Linked DNA regions of Homo sapiens: region 2 is linked to region 1. Evidence: fine-mapped expression QTL. A gene starts in region 1. The other region holds a variant in brackets. All regions are shown on one strand. Distances are between the middles of the regions.

Region 1 (9,254 bases):
CACCTGTAATCCCGGCACTTTGGGAGGCCAAGGCGGGCAGATCACCTGAGGTCAAGAGTTCAAGACCAGCCTAGCCAACATGGTGAAACCCCATCCCTGCAAAAACACACACACACAAAATAGCTGGGCATGATGGCAGGTGCCTGTAATCCCAGCTACTCGGGAGGCTGAGGCAGGAGAATTGCTTGAACCTGGGAGGAGGAGGTTGTAGTCAGCCGAGATCGTGCCATTGCACTCCAGCCTGGGCAACAGAGCAAGACTCCGTCTCAAAAAAAAAAAAAAACAAAAAAAAAACCTCCTCTTCCAATAAATAAGGCATTCAGCAAATACGGAACACTACAAAACAGAATGTTTCTCTTTAAAATTCAAGTTCCACAATACAATCTGCTAAGTTTTGGAGACAGTGCCTCCTCCAAGTAAGTACTGAGGGCTGCTGGTTTTATTCCATGCTTGTTTCTTAATGGCAGTGAGTTCTGAGAAGCATTAAAGGTGGGATGATGCAAAGAACACCACATCATTACTTTAGAAGCTCTGGCTGTTCTAAAAAGTTCAAGTAACCCTAAAATTACTAAACCAGTTTCTTATCTAACAATAAAAAAAACTAGGTGCAAATTGCAACTTAAATACATCCTATCAGATAAAATGCTTGTTCTAATATACATTAAGCCTTGTCTTCTATATTTTTATTCACTTGGGGACCTCACTTTTTAAGGAGAATCTCTTGGCCAATTTACTTGGCTCTAGAGAACTGTGCTTAAATGAATTACACTTAATTACACTTAAATGGGTTCCACTTAATTATTTCTTAAGGAACCTATATTCTTTAGTTTTCAAAGAGATCCAAGGTCAATACTGAATCCCAAGGTCTGACTCTCCAGGCTCCTTCAACAGCTTTCCCGGCATGCAGTTTAAAAACACACCCAGCACAAATTTCGGCTATGGCTTAACTAAAGAACAGAACATGCTAGCCCTATTGTCCACTTCCTCGCTATCAAAAAAACCTTGCAAACTTTTTGGTTCCCCCTTTGTAAGTTCCAATCCAGGTGTTATTTCCTATTTATCCCCCTGCTTTTTATAAGCACTGATTGTTCTCCGATGCTGGCTTTTTATGGACTTAATAGTCTGGAACATGCAATCCAACAGTCTCAATATAACCCTGGACCTCAACTTAGAAAATCAGTTCTTTTCCAAATAGACATCCTACATAGGATAATTTTTTAAAAACATGAACTGGCATTTTGGTACAAGCAATTGGTAAAGTCGGTAACACCAAAATAGTTTTTTGATTAAAAACAAGAAAGTTGACCATGCTGTACGGATTCTCTTACTGACAGCTACTTCCCTACAGGTTTTCGCATCTCCAATTTCTAGCACTGTCAAAGAGAAAAAGATTAGGTGTAACTACAAATTAGCAACTATCAGGAAGAGAGAAAGCCCGCATAAGAGGTAATACCTAGTCACCAACAGTGACCATTCTAGACCAAGGTTGGTTATCCCCGGATGACTCGCTGGACAGGCTGTAAATGGAGTCCTGAGTCTAGTCAGAGTGGTGCTGGTGGCTCCACAGAAAGGAGGAAGAGCCAAGAAAGAAAATGGCTGGATAAACGGAATCTGCAAAGTAAGGTAGGGAATGGGCACTTTTAGGAGCTGAGAAGTGAACTAGGTTAGGCAGTCAAAATGGCTTGATGTAAGTCAAGAATTACAAGCTAAGCTTCCTTATTCAAGAGGAAAACATTGTCTAGAGCCGTACCACCCTGAAAGTGCTCGATCTCCTCAAAAGAAAACATCAACCACCCACACAAATAAATGCCACTGTCAACAAAACCACCAAATCAACCGTGCTGACGTACATACGTCATCAGAGTGTTTCTCCAGACACTATCCCTTTACCACGAAAGAGCAAACGGTGACAAAAGTTTCTGTAGAAACCAAACTCCTGGAGCACTTTTATAATGTCCACTTATCTAAGAACCACCACAATACAGAACTTTAAAGAGAGAAATCAACAATATGTTCTCACTTAAAATGCGCTGGATGTCATGACCCACCCCACTAACGTCCTGGCTAAATGATGAAAGGACGTTCAGCCTTTTCCTTCCTTTTTCATTTTCTCTTTAAGGAAACACTGATAGTTCCTAAAATAAGCACCATTAGGAAGAGAATACTTAAGTTCACTCATTTGACATTCCCACAAAATCAGTACCTGAAAGCAAGCTACCTACCACAAAATAAGCACCATTATGAGAATACATAAGTTCACTCACCGGATATTCCTACAACGTCAGCACCTGCAAGCATGCTACCTACGACTTAAGCAACCCCTAAGTACGGGAAGATGTTTAAAAACCAAAGTTAACTCGAAATTTTATGGATTAGAAAATGTATGTCTACTAGCTACGGTCAGAAAGACACGTGAGAACTATTAAATTATAACAAATGCTCAAGTGTCTGAAGAAATAGACTGAACTACTGATGCACGAACACAGTGAGTTATTCCAAGCAATCTGAATAAGGTCAACGATTTTACAGCAATGAAAATTCTCTAAACGTGTCGCTGACAAAGGATAAAAGTGTAAGCTTCACTTTAAAAAGACACAAATCAATATAGTCTCCTATCACACATTAAGTGAGGAATCCTAACTTTGTGGCACTTTGTAAACTTTAGAAGCGTACACAATGCTAAGGGTAAAACAGATCTTGGTATTGATAGCCAAGTTTCTGCCCGATCACAAGGCTGCAATGCATCTTGGGATTCCTTCAGGACGGTTGGGGGCCACGGACAGTTTAAACCGTAATTACAGTTTCAATAGTAGAAAACGCAGCAGAAGACGCTCTCTCGGCTGGGCCTAAGGTGAAAGGAAAACTCGGCCATTCGTCCTCCCCAACTCCTGGGATCTCTAAACGCCCACCCAAATGACTCCTGGCTCCATCTGTCCTCATTCTGCGCCTCGTGGCAGGGATCCGCCGCGGCCCCCACTCCGTTCCATACGGTTCCCATCTCAAGTGGGTAACTGCGGACTCCAGAGCAGGGCAGGGGCGCGGAGGGGCGGCACTCGGGTCCGGGTCTTTGGGCGCGCTGCCCGCTGTCCGCTCCCCGCCCGGCCACCGCCGCGGGCCGCCCCGCGAAGGCCGGCTCCCGGGCTCGGGGCGCCCCACCCAGGCAGACGGCGCCACTGTCAGCGCCCCACGTGCCGACCGGGCCCCAGGGCCGCGCGCCCCCGGACCGCACCCCTACGCCATGTGGGCTCCGGCGCCCGGCCGGACTTCCTCCCGCGTCCCGGGCCTTTACCCGCACGGCCTCCCGCGCCGCTGCCGGCTCCGTGGTTATTGGCGGCGCCGCCAACTGGGGGTGGCGGCGCTGCCGGGCCCCGCAGGAAGGACGGCACGAACTCGGCGGCGTGGACGTTGGGCACGAAGGGCTTGGCGTTGACGTTGAGTTGCCGGCTGAAGGCCGCGCTGAGGTTCTCCCGCTGGGCCTCGGCCGCCGCCGCCAGGGAGCCGCCGCCGCCGCAAGGGCCCGGCCCGGGGGCTTCCATGTCCGCCTGGTCCCAGCAGTCAGGCGCCGAGTCGCTGCTGCTGCTGCCGCTGCTGCTCCCGCCGCCGCCGCCGCCGCCGCCGCCGCCGCCACTGCCCGGATCCATGATCGGGGGGGCCGTGTGTGTGGTGGACAGAGAGCGGGAAATGGAGGCAGGGGCGCCCGGCCGGAGAGGAGTGGGCAACGCTGACTGAGGGAAGGCGGCGGGGCAGAAGGGCCGGGAGCTAGCGACAAAGATCCCCGGCGTCGCCGCGGCAGCAGCTCCAGTCCCGACTCCACACTCGCGACGACGACAGAGGCGGCGGCGGCGGCAGCTCAACCCTCCTCCTCGTGTGTGTGAGCGGATCTCCTCCCACCCAACCACCTCCGACGGCCTCACAGCCAACCCCACCCCCGGCGCGGATTGACCCCTCGCCGCCACCCGTACCTTCGCCTCGGTAGTTCTCTGTTCTGGCCGCCCCCGTTTCCGGCTATTTAGCGCGGCGGGAGGTGGAACTACAAGTTCCGGCAGCGCCCGCGCTACCCCGCTGCGGTTTTCCCGGGGGCCGACGGGAGTCGAAGTTCAGGGACAGGGCGCAACCGGAAGCGGCTCCGGCTCCCGGCAGGCAACGCGAGGAGGCGGAGGTCTGGTGGCCGCTCGGCGGCCCCACCTGTCACCTGGTGGGGGGGCAGCGGCAGGCCCTGGTTGGTGCAGCTCTGTGCTGGGCCGAAGACCGAGAGTATTTTAGCCCATAGGAGGGGTCCACTCTGGCCTGCTGGACACAGGCTGGGGGAAAACGGACAGCATCTATAACATGGGGAAGAAAAATACACTCAGCTCCCGAAAATTCTTGTACTCTCTTTTCACCACCTTTCCTGCGTTCTCTGCCTCACAGTCTCCGTACCTTATTCTCTCTCCACCTTCTTTCTCCTCACCCCCAGCCAGATTTTGCCCTTCATTTCAAAGCCGGTGCAGATTGCAAAGCTGATTTCATTTTATGTAATCATTTCGTGGAAGAAACAATAAAACCGTGAGATATTCCGGCTTAAAACTGCAGTGTGGCTCATAAAGCGCTGGGGCCCAGGCTCTGCCCAGGCAGAAGGGATTGTTAACTGGAAAATTTCAATGACTCACCGTTTGTTTGACTAGTCATATAAAGCCTTCACCCAAATTTTTCCATCCTTTCCTCCTCCCCGCCAAAGGGTTTGCAAATTAAACAGAGGATTGCCGTATTCCATGGTGTATCCGGCTTACCTAACAGGGTTATTTTGGTGAGTCTAGCTTCCTTATGCACCATTACGTGAAGTGGTTTCCTTTTGAATGGTCTGATTTGCTCAAGAATTCCCATAGTACTTTTCATCGACTGCATCTTACACTTACAGATTAGGTAAACCTGGGAAAAGAACAAAAGCAAACGAGAAATACTTAAGAGTTCGCATTTAGGCCCTTCATGAAGTAGGAAAAAATGTTGCTCTGAGTACCTGTTAAGCTTTCCTGTAATTCACCCATGTGGAGCCCAAGACAGAGAAAAACATATTGTTAGTATTTTTCTGAAAGGAGTCTAGACAGGGTGCAACTAATCTGCCTAGAAATTACAGACTAAAGAAGCACATACATAGAATAGATGTTTCTGAACAACCTTAGGTTGTTAAAAAAAAAAAAAACCTAACAAAATCCAGATCTAGATCTGTATTTTAATTTTCTTTTTTCTTTTTTTTGAGACGGAGTCTTGCTCTGTAGCCCAGGCTGGAGTGCAGTGGCGCGATGTCGGCTCGCTGCAAGCCCGCCTCCCGGGTTCACAACATTCTCCTGCCTCAGTCTCCGGAGTAGCTGGGACTAGAGGCGCCCGCCATCACGCCCGGCTAATTTTTTTTGTATTGTTATTAGAGACGAGGTTTACACCGTGTTAGACAGGATGGTCTGGATCTCCTGACCTCGTGATCCGCTCGTCTCGGCCTCCCAAAGTGCTGGGATTACAGGCGTGAGCCACCGCGCCCGGCCGATCTGTATTTTAATTTTAAACATCTGTATTGTAAAGATAAAAGAGAACTCAGCCTAATGAGATAGGTCAAAAACGAAGCTGTCAAGTATTTTTCAAAAGAGTCCTAGGCTACAGTAATTTGAATTTAATATTAAACTACCAAGCTTTAGGGATTAAAAAAACACATACCGGCCAGGCGCAGTGGCTCACACCTGTAATCTCAGCAATTTGGGAGGCCGAGGCAGATGGATCACGTGAGGTCAGGAGTTCGAGACCAGCCTGGCCAACGTGGTGGAACCCCCGTCTCTACTAAAAATACAAGTTAGGCCGGGCGCGGTGGCTCACGCCTGTAATCCCAGCACTTTGGGAGGCCAAGGTGGGCGGATCACGAGATCAGGAGATTGAGACCATCCTGGCTAACACGGTGAAACCCTGTCTCTACTGAAAATACAAAAAATTAGCCGGGCGTGGTGTGCGGGCGTCTGTATTGCCAGCTACTCAGGAGGCTGAGGCAGGAGAATGGCGTGAAACCAGGAGGCGGAGCCTGCAGTGAGCCGAGATCGCGCCACTGCACTCCAGCTTGAGCGACAAAGCGAGACTCTGTCTCAAAAAACAAACAAAAAAAGCGATCCACCTGCCTCAGCTTCCCAAAGTGCTGGGCTTATCGGTGTGAGCCACCACACCCGGCAGAGTTTGCCTCTGCTTAATAGGAAGTTTTGGTTATAGCCTATTATTATACCTGAAGACCTCACTGAATCATACTTAACAATGTCCATTTTAAAGTTGGTATTAAGTGACTGTCAGATTTACAGAGAACTTAACAACTGTTATGAAAATTAGAACTTCATTTATGCGAGACCTGTATTGCTATTGAATAAAAGATTTTCATCTTATATTCACAAGAAAAAATACAATGTGTTCTAAATGAAATGCCTTCTCTTTCCAGATTTTCACTCCCCACCCACCCACCCCTAAGAAAATGTCAACACAATCAGCTGACTCAAATAATGAACTACACATCCTTCTCTAAGCATTTTGTCTTTGAATACTACTCTCCTCCATGTAGCACTCCTACAGCACTGAATGATCACTTTCTCATAGGTTAGTTCTTCACATCTAATTGAATTAGCAGAGTTTCCTTCTGCCTGGTACTTTTTCTAGGGACAAAGGCAGAAACTGCTCAGACTGCTGCTTAGAAAAGCAGTTGATGTCATTAATTTCCTTGTCTCTGAATAGGATAATTATGGATATTCAGGAAAAAATCCACTCCATTGGTTTTCCAAAGCTTTGACCTGCCAAACAGAGCTCCAGCGGAAAAGGGAAAAGTCTTTCTTGTTAGTTGTGCTAAGTTGTGTGTAAGTTGTGCGACTTGAGGGCAGGGTCTTACCTTAATCTTCTTTACATTTCCACTGCCTAGTGTAATGCCCGGTGTATAAAAGGTGCTTAATCAATTTAGCTGGGATGATACTGTCCTTTGATACTCATTTAAGACTGCTGACACATAGGGCTAATAATTTTATTTATTTATTTATTTTTTAAATAACTTGAGACTCTTGAGACAGAGTCTCGCTCTGTCGCCCAGGCTAGAGTGCAGTGGTATGATCTCAGCTCACTGCAACTTCCACCTCCCAGGTTCAAGCGATTCTCCCACCTCAGCCTCCTGAGTAGCTGGGATTACAGGTGTGCACCACCACGCCCAGCTAATTTTTGTATTTTTAACAGAGACGGGGTTTCACCATGTTGGCCAGGATGGTCTCAATTTCTTGACCTTGTGATCTGCCCTCCTTGGCCTCCCAAACTGTTGGGATTACAGGCGTGAGCCACCACGCCTGGCCTGTATTTTTTTTTAGTAGAGACAGGGTTTCACCTTGTTGGCCAGGCTGGTTTCAAACTCCTGATCTCAAGTGATCTGCCTGCCTTGGGCTCCTAAAGTGCTAGGATTACAGATGTGAGCCACCGCACTTAGCTATTTTAATTTAATTTAATTTTATTTTTTGAGATGGAGTCTTGCTCTGTTGCCCAGGCTGGAGTGCAGTGGAGCAATCTTCACGCACTGCAACCTCTACCTCCCAAGTTCAAGCAATTCTCCTGCCTCAGCCTCCTGAGTAGCTGGGATTATAGGTGCCCGCCACCCCCCCTCCCCAACCCCCTGGTAATTTTTCTATTTTTAGTAGAGACAGGGTTTCACCATATTGCCCAGGCTGATCTGGAACTACTGACCTCAAGTGATCCTCCTGCCTCAGCCTCCCAACGTGCTAGGATTACAGGCATGAGCCACCACACCCCACCCCAGGACTAATAATTTAGAAAACTTAGGAAAAATCAGAGTTTTTCCTACTCTCACACACAAGTCACCGCTCAACACAGAGTACAGTCCTCTCTGGGTAGAGGAAGGGGATTAGTTCCAGGAGCCCTTCAGATACAAAAATCCAACCATACTAAAATCCCACAATCTATACTGTGTGTATGAAAGGTCAGCCCTCCCTACACTTGAGTTCCTGCATCCTGAGAATCCCGTCTTTTTGATCCTCATTTGATTGAAAAAAAAAATCCATGTGTAAGTGGGACCCTCGCAGTTCAGGCTCACATTGTTTAAGGGCCAGTTGTACTCCACCAGTAAGTGAGGGAGTTTCTACCCACCACCAACCAATTCTTCAACAGACACCAACAGGATAAGCAATCATTTCACTCAATTCTGACATTAACCAGAGTTAGGACAGATCCCACAAGTTAAGGGATCAGTCCCACAAGACTGCCCCCACTTCCAATGCCAATAACAGGTTCCACATTGTGACCTGTGCTTCTGACCAACTGGCTATGAATTGGGGGTTCCCATGACCCCCTCCATGGGTTCAGGGAATTTGCCAGAGTGGCTCACAGAACTCAAGGAAACAGGGCAAACACGGTGGCTCATGCCTGTAATCCCAGCACTTTGGGAGGCCGAGGCAGGCGAATCACCTGAGGTCAGGAGTTTGAGACCAGCCTGGCCAACATGGTGAAACCCTGTCTCTACCAAAAAAATACAAAAATTAGCCGGTTGTGGTGGTGGGTGCCTGTATTCCCAGCTACTCAGGAAGCTGAAGGCAGGAGAATCGCTCGAACATGGGAGGCAGAGGTTGTAGTGAGCCAAGTGCTCCACCACACTCTAGCCTGGGCAACAGAGCAAGACTCCGTCTCAAAAAAAAGAACTCAAGGAAACACTTTACTTACAGTTACCCATAAAGGACATTACAAAGGATACAGAGGAACAGCCACGTGGAAGAGATGCACAGGGCTGGGAAGGGGCATACAGTTCCTATTCTGTCTCCAGGTGTGCCATCCTCAAGGGTCCTCCACGTGTTCAGCAACCCAGAAGCTCTCTGAACCCTGTCCTTCTGGGTTTCTATGGAGGCTTCCCTACATAGCCATGACTGATTGTATCATTGCCCGTTGCTGATTAACTCAACCTTCAGCCCCTCTGCCCACCGAGAGGTTGGATGTGGGGCTAAAAGTTCCAAGCTTCTAATCATGACTTGGCCTTTCTGGTGACCAGTCGTCTTCTAGGAGCCCATCAAGAGTTGCATCATTAGGCAGGGTGCGGTGGCTGATGCCCAGCACTTTGGGAGGCCGAGGCAGGCAGATCACCTGAGGTCAGGAGTTCGAGAACAGCCTGGTCAACATGGCAAAACCCTGTCTCTACTAAAAATACAAAAATTAGCTGGGCGTGGTGGCACACGCCTGTAATCCCAGCTACTTGGAAGGCTGAGGCAGGAGAATCG
Region 2 (9,254 bases), 89 kb before region 1:
GCTCATGCCTGTAATCCCAGCACTTTGGGAGGCCAAGACAGGTGGATCACCTGAGGTCGGGAGTTCAAGACCAGCCTGACCAACATTGAGAAACCCCATTTCTACTAAAAATACAAAATTAGCTGGGCGTGGCGGCACATGCCTGTAATCCCAGCTACTTGGGAGGCTGAGGCAGGAGAATCGCTTGAACCCGGGAGGCAGAGGTTGTGGTGAGCCAAGATTGCACCATTGTACTCCAGCTTGGGCAACAAGAGCAAAACTCTGTCTCAAAAACAGAAGAAGAAGAAGAAACTGAAGTACAAGGCCAAAGGTACTTGAAGTAGGCTTAACTTCTTCCTGAAGCACCATTACTATTTGATGGTAAATCTATGTTTTTATACTTTAGGTACAAGTGATGAAATTCAAGGCCAGGCATAGTGACTCATGCTTGCAACCCCAGCACTTTGGGAGGCCGAGGCAGGAGGATCACTTGAGGTCAGGAGTTTGAGACCAGCTTGGCCAACATGGTGAAATCCATTCTCTACTAAAAATACAAAAATTAGGCCAGGTGCATTGGCTCACGCCTGTCATCTCAGCCCTTTGGGAGGCTGAGGCGGGCAGATTACTTGAGGTCAGGAGTTTGAGACCAGCCTGGCCAACATAGTGAAACCCCGTCGCTACTAAAAATATAAAAATTAGCTGGGTGTGGTGGCGCACACCTGTAATCCCAGCTACTCAGGAGGCGGAGGCAGCAAAATCACTTGAACCCAGGAAGCGGAGGTTGCAGTGAGCCAAGATCACGCCATTGCACTCCAGCCTGGGTGACAGAGTGAGACTCCATCTCAAAAAAACAAACAACAACAACAACAAAAACAAAAATTAGCCAGGCATGATGGCCCACATCTGTAGTTGCAGCTACTCAGAAGGCTTGAGGCAGGACAATCTCTTGAACCCCAGAGGCAGAGGTTGCAGTGAGCTGAGATCACACCACTGCACTCCAGCCTGGGCAACATGGCAAGACTCTATCTCAAAAAAAAAAAAATCCCGAAGAAGCAAACAAAAACAAGTGACAAGTGATGAAATCCAAGGTCAAAGATTAAGAACATTGACTTGAAGGAGAGGGGACAGTCACGAGAAGGAAATGTATTTTCTTTTCCACCAGCATGAGGACCCAGTAGGTACAAAGTTTACCAAGGGAGAAGCTTGGGTGGGGATAGTGATTGCCAAACGCTCCCCGCAGCTGTGGTTGCTCTTGCCTTGGGGACAGTTCACTCAAGGTCACTGGTTATTAGAGAACATCAATTGTGGATTGCAGAACTCCATAGCCACCAACATAACTCAAGTCCCGGTTGGGCTTTTCACTGAGAAATGGTTGTGTGGCATTTTATCAACACATCACAGGCCCTGTGGAAAAAGGCTTGGCTTCTAATTAATTGGATTAATAGCCAACTTCCAAATCAATTGTTTTTCTTAATGCACTGGCAAAAGTCATTTACGGAGTGAAAACCTGAGAACATCTACTATTCAATCATCTTTCCTGAAGAGATAAGTGGTAAGAGTAACTCTGCCCAACATAGTATGAAGTCTTAGGTTTTTCAAGCAGTAAATGAATACTGAATGAAAGCTAAGCATAAAGATAATACATTAATGGCCGGGCGTGGTGGCTCATGCCTGTAATCCCAGCACTTTGGGAGGCCGAGGTGGGCGGATCACCTGAGGCGAGGAGTTCGAGACCATCCTGTCCAACATGGTGAAACCCCATTTCTACTAAAAATACAAAAATAAAAATAGCCAGGCATGGTGGCGCATGCCTGTAATCCCAGCTACTCAGGAGGCTGAGGCAGGAGAATCGCTTGAACACTGGAGGCAGAAGTTACAGTGAGCCGAGATCACACCGCTGCATTCCAGCTTGGGCAACAAGAGTAAAACTCTGTCTCAAAAAAAATAAAATAATACTACATTAATATAAAATCATGTGGACAACTGGAGTGAAAAAAAATTCAAAGAGAAAAAATGGTAAAACCTTGCTTTTTTTCTTTTTTTTTGGGACGGAGTCTCACTCTGTCGCCAGTCTGGAGTGCAGTGGTGTGATCTCAGCTCACTGCAATCTCTACCTCCTGGGTTCAAGTGATTCTCCTGCCTCAACCTCCCGAGTAGCTGGGACTACAGGCATGTGCCACCACGCCTGGGTAACTTTTGTATTTTTAATAGAGACAGGGTTTCACCATGTTGGCCAGGATGGTCTTGATCTCTTGACCTCGTGATCTGCCCGCCTCGGCCTTCCAAAGTGCTGAGATTTCAGGCGTGAGCCACCGCGCCCAACCGGTTTTTTTGTTTTGTTTTGTTTTTGAGACAGGGTCTTGCTCTGTTCCCCAGGCTGGAGTGCAGTGGCGCAATGTCAGCTCACTGCAACTGCTGCCTCCCAGACTCAAGTGATCCTCCCACCTCAGCCTCCCACGTAGCTGGGACTACAGGCGCCTGCCACCACCCATGGCTTATTTTTTTTGTATGTTTTTGTAGAGACGGGGTTTCACCTTGTTGCCCAAGCTGGTCTCAAACTTCTAGGGTCAGGCAATCCTCCTGCCTCGGCCTCCTAAACTGCTGGGATTACAGGTGTGAGCCACCACATGTGGCCCAGGTGTTTTCTTTAAGTGGGTGATGGTGACGATCAACTCCCTTAGGTATTTAGAGTCCAACAGATGTATTTGAGAATGGAATAGTTTTAGTTTCAAAGATCACTATTTACACAATGGCAAGTAATTATGTCTTTGCAACTGTATACACTAAACATTTTAGGTGTCAGGTTAAATACTAGGTGGAACAGAATTTGTCACAAAATTTTACAGTATGTAGGAACAAAAAAAACACTAATGAAAACAATGACAAATATTGGCCTTTTAGGTTTGAACTCACCGTTAATGGCACCATTTTATTAATTTGCCATTTCATATGATGTTTTAACCCTAAATTGCTGGTAAGTTTTGTAGCTGAATTTTCTTAGCATTTCTGGCTAACTATGCTGTGTTCTTTAGTTTACTAACAATTTTTGTTTCTGATTCCCTAATGTTTAGCCATCCTTACATTCCTCAGATAAGCTCTCCTAAGCTGTTATTATCCTGGTTAAGCAGTATGTGGTATCTTACATTTATCTTAAGACCAGGTGATAGGAGTTTTTCTGGCGAAGAAAACTACTAGGTTTGAGTACCGAAAAAATTACTTTCGCAGAATGAATTGGGAATCTTTGAATTATAATGGCAACAACTCAAGATTTGTATGCATGATATTATTTTATTTTTCGAGATAGGATCTTGCTTGCTCTGTTATCCAGGCTGGCAGTGCATTGGCGTGGTCTCGGCCCACTGCAACCTCCGCCTTCCACACTCAAGTGATCCTCCTCCCTCAGCCTCCAGAGTGACTGAGACTAAGCCACCTTGCCCAGCTAATTTTTGTATTTTTAGTACACACGGGGTTTGCCACGTTACCCAGGCTGGTCTGAGCTCAGGGGATCCACCCACATCAGCCGTCCAAAGTGCTAGGACTATAGATGTGAGCCAGCGCACCTGGCCCACAATATTAAGTGAAATCTCACTGTCTTTTCTCTTCCAGTTTTTAGGTTTTTGTCTCTTCATTCAGTTTTGGGAACTTATTAGTTCCCATTATCTAGACTTAAGAATGTTGTATGGGCCGGGCGCGGTGGCTCACGCCTGTAATCCCAGCACTTTGGGAGGCTGAGGCGGGCGGATCACGAGGTCAGGAGATCGAGACCATCCTGGCTAACACGGTGAAACTCCGTCTCTAGTAAAAATACAAAAAAATTAGCCTGGGGTGGTGGCGGGCGCCTGTAATCCCAGCTAGTCGGGAGGCTGAGGCAGGAGAATGGCGTGAACCCGGGAGGCGGAGCTTGCAGTGAGCTGAGATCGCGCCACTGCACTCCAGCCTGGGCGACAGAGTGAGACTCCGTCTCAAAAAAAAAAAAAAAGAGAATGTTGGTATGAAATAGGAATAATTCTCTTTGATTTTTTTTAGCTTATCTTTCCTGCCTAGGTTATTAAATAGCAAATGTTTGTTTTTTCCCCCTGCTTTGCAGGGGCGTATTGATCTGCCACCTTTTTCAAGAACCAGTTTAGGGCCAGGCACAGTAGCTTACACCTATAACCCCCGCATTTTGGGAGGCCGAGGCGGGCGGATCACAAGGTCAGGAGATCGAGACCATCCTGGCTAACAGGGTGAAACCCCGTCTCTACTAAAAATACAAAAAATTAGCTGGGCGTGGTGGCAGGCACCTGTAGTCCCAGCTACTCGGGAGGCTGAGGCAGGAGAATGGCGTGAACCCGGGAGGCGGAGCTTGCAGTGAGCCGAGATCCTACCACTGCACTCCAGCCTGGGCGACAGAGTGAGACTCTGTCTCAAAAAAAAAAAAAAAAAAAAAAGAGATCAGCCTGGGCAACTTAGTGAGACCCCTGTCTCTACTAAAAGTCTAAAAATTTTTTAAAAGCCAAGCACAATAGCTCACGTCTGTAATGCTAACACTTTGGGAGGCCAAGGAGGGTAGATCACTTGAGGTCAAGAGTTCAAAACCAGGCTGGCCAACATGGTGAAATCCCGTCTCCAATAAAAATACAAAAATTAGCAGAGCATGGTGGCACATGCCTGTAATCCCAGCTACTCAGGAGGCAGTCAGCTGAGATTATGCCACTGCACTTCAGCCTGAGCAACAGAGACCCTGTCT[C/CA]AAAAAAAAAAAAAAAAAGAAAAAGAAAATAAAAAGAAAGAAAAAAAGAGAAATCCAACAGCCTAACAGAAAAATAGTCAAGGGAGATCAACAAGAGACTAGATCTCTGAAGAAATATAAATCATAACTTAATATAAAAAAAATATACAGCCCGACTAACAATATTCATATTTAAGTCAGTCTTTTAAGTGACTTTCAAACACACTTAACAAAAAGCAAGCTAAAAGTTTTATAAAAGAAATGATAGCTTCTCTCACCTGGTACAGCAGGCAACTTTTTAGTCAAAATAAGGTCAGGAATAGTTTCCCCAAAACAGCCAGACACCCTCTGTCAAGACAAACCGTCCTTAGATAAAAAGATGAGCAACAAGCTGCTGTGTTTCTTTTATACGAATTAGGCTCTTGATTGGATAATTGAAATAACACGGATTCTCACAAGCAGAAATTTTCACACATCAGGTTAGATTGTTTTCTTAATTCATCCAATAATGTAATACCTCAGTTCTATAAACGTTGAAGAAATTCACTTCTCACAAGGAGAGACTGGGGGCAAATGCATATAGCAGTTCACTTGAATGTCCCCACATAAAAAAAAATAATAATAACAACAACAAGAAATAAAAGATCTGTTTTACCCTGGTTGGCTTTCAGTTGACCATTTCATTTGGTTCACCTGCTGAGAATTCGGTAACGATGTTACTGTGAGGCAGGACGACAGGACGACTTCTAGCCACTGTATCCTTCTTAGCACTGTTTCCCAGCACTAACTGAGCAGAAGAATCACCTGGCCTCTTGGTCAAAACACAGATTCCTAAGTCCCGCATGTATACAGTAATTCCAGTTAAGCAGGTCTGCAGCAGGACCAGGAGTGTGCATTTTTCAGAAATACCACCTGCCCCCACCAGAAATCTTTAAATATTTTTATCATGCTCTCAATAATAGACATTTCAGAGGGATGAGTTGAAGGAGGGCTGGCATTTGTTCACTACAAAATCATATCATTGAAGGAATCTTGGAAAATATAGACCAGAAGGAAACAAAGGGAGAAAAATAAGCACAGGAGCCGGGCGCGGTGGCTCACGCCTGTAATCCCAGCACTTCGGGAGGCCGAGGCGGGTGGATCACAAGGTCAGGAGATCGAGACCATCCTGGCTAACACGGTGAAACCCCAGCTCTACTAAAAATACAAAAAATTATCCGGTCATGGTGGTGGGCGCCTGTAGTCCCAGCTACTCGGGAGGCTGAGGCAGGCGAATGGCGTGAACCCAGGAGGCGGAGCTTGCAGAGAGCTGAGAGCTGAGATCGCGCCACTGCACTCCAGCCTGGGCGACCAAGCGAGACTCTGTTTCAAAAAAAAAAAAAAAAAGAAAGAAAGAAAAGAAAAATAAGCACAGGAAAAAATACTGTAAAAAAATCAAGATATTAAATATTAACTGTGCTTATGCTTGGAAGTGGAACTATATGTATTATTATTATTTACAGGTTTTATTTACAGACTAAAGGGTGCAGAAGGCATGAAAATATTTTGTGATACTAATCCCATTTTGGAGAGAAAAAATAAGCACTGGCCAGGCACAGTAGCTCATGCCTATAATCCCAGCACTTTGGCAGGCTGAGGTGGGAGGATCACTAGAGGCCAGGAGTTCAAACTGGACAACATAATGAGATACTTTTTTTTTTTTTTTTTTTTTACATGGAATCTCCCTCTATCGCCCAGGCTGGAGTGCAGTGGCACCTTCTCGGCTCACTGCAACCTCCGCCTCCTGGGTTCAAGCGATTCTCGTCTCAGGCTCCCAAAATAGCTGGGGCTACAAGTGTGCACCACCACGCCCAGCTAATTTTTTTTTTTTTTTTTTTGAGACAGAGTTTCGCTCTTGTTGCCCGAGATGGAGTGCAATGGCGTGATCTTGGCTCACCGCAACCTCCGCCTCCCAGGTTCAAGCAATTCTCCTGCCTCAGCCTCCCAAGTAGCTGAGATTAGAGGCATGCATCACCACATCCGGCTTATTTTGTATTTTTAGTAGAGACAGGGTTTCTCCGTGTTGGTCAGGCTGGTCGCGAACTCCTGACGTCAGTTGATTTGCCTGCCTTGGCCTCCCAAAGTGCTGGGATTACAGGCGTGAGCCACCACGCCCGGCTAATCAGGCTGAGTCTCGAACTCCTGACCTCAGGTGATCTCCCCACTTCTGCCTCCCTAAGTACTGGCATTACAGGCGTCAGCCACCACGTCCAGCCACTTTCTTTCATTTCTGTTTCTGAGGTCCATTGCTCCATTCAGTAGAAAAGGGGTGGCTTGGAGAGGATTTGCCAACCTTCCCATGATTTCCATCACCACATCCCCCAAAATGCACAACCTAAGTTTAAAAGCATAGCAACTGGTCAGGTGTGGTGGTTTACGCCTGTAATCCCAGCACTGTGGGAGGCTGAGGCAGGCGGATCGCCTGAGGTCAGGAGTTCTAGACAAGCCTGGCCAACATGGTGAAACCCCGTCTCTACTAAAAATATAAAAATTAGCCGGGCGTGGTAGTGTGCACCTATAATCCCAGCTACTCAGGAGGCTGAGGCATGAGAATTGCTTGAACCCAGGAGGCGGAGGTTGCAGTGAGCTGAGATCTCACCATTGTACTCCAGCATGGTTGACAAGAGCAAGACTCCGTCTCAAAAAAAAAAAAATAGAAAAAGAAAAAAGAAAATGACCCAGCTGAGTTATATAAGCAGGTGATACTAATCTTTTATTTATTTTTCTTTCCTTTTTTTTTTTCAGATGGAGTCTGGCTCTGTCACCCAGGCTGGAGTGCAGTGGCACGATCTCGGCTCACTGCAACCTCCGCCTCCTGTGTTCAAGCAATTCTTCTGCCTCAGCCTCCTGAGTAGCTGGGACAACAGGCGCGTGCCACCACACCTGGCTAATTTTTGTGTTTTTATGGGGTTTCACCATATTGGCCACGATGGTCTCGAACTCCTGACCTCGTGATCCACCTGCCTTGGCCTCCCAAAGTGCTGGGATTACAGGTGTGAGCCACCGCGCCCAGCCGATACTAATCATTTTAAGTGCTGGACTGCAGTGTTATAATCTGGGGTTAAGTAGAGCCACCTAAATAATTTGCCATTTTTTCTCTCCAGGACCACTATACTGAAATGATCCCTATAACCAAAATTTTATTCATGGTCTTCGATCAGTTGCACTAATTTCCTTAGGATCCAAGGATTGATGAAGGTTTCTCGTGGCTCATAAAGTCCAAATTGGGAATCTTGGTATTTGAATATTAATACTATCTGTAGGCAAGAAAAATCGTAACAATTTCAGAAAAAAAAATGTAGGGAGTGCAGAACTTTCAAATATTTAACTAAATGGCAAGAATTCTTTGCTCTTAAACACCCATATATGGAAAATAGAGCAAGGGTTTTTTGGCCAGGTGTTACGAATAGGATGACACTTAGCAACTTCTTGGTACCCTCATTTTCGTATTTTCAAGGAGACTGAAATACAATGTGATCCTTTCTTTTTTTTTTCTTTTCTTTTTTTTTTTTTTTTTTTGAGACGGAGTCTCACTCTGTCGCCCAGCCCAGGCTGGAGTGCAGTGGCGCGATCTCGGCTCACTGCAACCTCTGCCTTCTGGGTTCAAGCGATTCTCCTGCGTCAGCCTCTCAAGTAGCTGGGATTACAGGCACACACCACTATGCCTGGCAAATTTTTGTATTTTTAGTAGAGATGGGGTTTCACCATATTAGTCAGGCTGATCTCGAACTCCTGACCTCAAGTGATCTGCCCACCTTGGCCTCTCAAAGTGCTGGGAGTACAGGGGTGACCCACTGTGACTGATCACCCGGCCAGTATTTTAGTTATTTGTAGAGACAAGGGCCGGCTATGTTGCCTAGGCTGTTCCCAAACTTTTGTGCTCAAGTGATCTTCCTGCCTCGAGTTCCCGAAGTGTGGGGATTACAGGCATAAGCCACCATGCCCAGCAGGAGCTCTTAAGGTCTGCTTGAATGGTCCTTGTTTTGCTGGGTACAGTTAGTTACATTTTATCATTTTTTTTTTTTTTGAGATGGAGTCTTGCTGTGTTGTCCAGGCTGCCGTTCAGTGGTGCGATCTTGGCTCACTGCAACCTCCGCCTCCCAGACACAAGCGATTCTCCTGCCTCAGCCTCCTGAGTAGCTGGGACTACAGGCGTGCACAACCAGGCCTGGCTAATTCTTGTGTTTTCAGTAGACATGGGGTTTCGCCATGTTGGCCAGGCTGGTCTCGAACTCCTCATCTCCCCACCTCTGCCTCCCTAAATATTGGGATTACAGGCGTCAGCCACCACTTCCAGCCACGTTCTTTCATTTCTGTTTCTGAGGCCCATTGCTCCATTCAGTAGAAAAGGGGCGGCTTGTAGGAGATTTGCCAGCCTTCCCATTATTTCCATCACCACGTCCCCCAAAATGCACAATCTAAGTTTAAAAGTGTAGCAACTGGTCAGATGTTGTGGCTCACGCCTGTAATCCCAGCACTATGGGAGGCTGAGGCGGGCGGATCGCCTGAGGTCAGAAGTTCTAGACAA

Direction of the effects. Positions count from the first base shown, and alleles are read on the strand shown. Sizes are in standard deviations (SD) of each study's normalised expression.
For the expression in monocytes after Pam3CSK4 of the gene that starts at base 3,877 in region 1, C is the low allele of the variant in region 2 and CA is the other (moderate effect, 0.68 SD a copy in Quach 2016).

The links. PIP is the estimated chance that this variant, and not a neighbour inherited with it, causes the effect.
Region 2: its variant is the best candidate, but not a certain one, in a credible set for the expression of GSPT1 in monocytes after Pam3CSK4 (Quach 2016, PIP 0.63).

What each region holds. Positions count from the first base shown.
Region 1 is chr16:11,912,080-11,921,333 of GRCh38, forward strand. It overlaps GSPT1 (G1 to S phase transition 1), which reads right to left and starts at 3,877. Exons shown (of 15, transcript NM_002094.4): 1 at 3,290-3,877. The coding sequence starts at 3,641. RefSeq lists silencers at 3,007-3,056, 3,097-3,336, 3,427-3,496, 4,207-4,266 and enhancers at 3,321-4,258, 3,867-4,016, 5,317-5,817.
Region 2 is chr16:11,823,357-11,832,610 of GRCh38, forward strand. It overlaps BCAR4 (breast cancer anti-estrogen resistance 4), which reads right to left and starts at 5,476. Exons shown (of 3, transcript NR_131222.1): 1 at 5,343-5,476. The variant C/CA (reference allele first, on the strand shown) is at 4,709.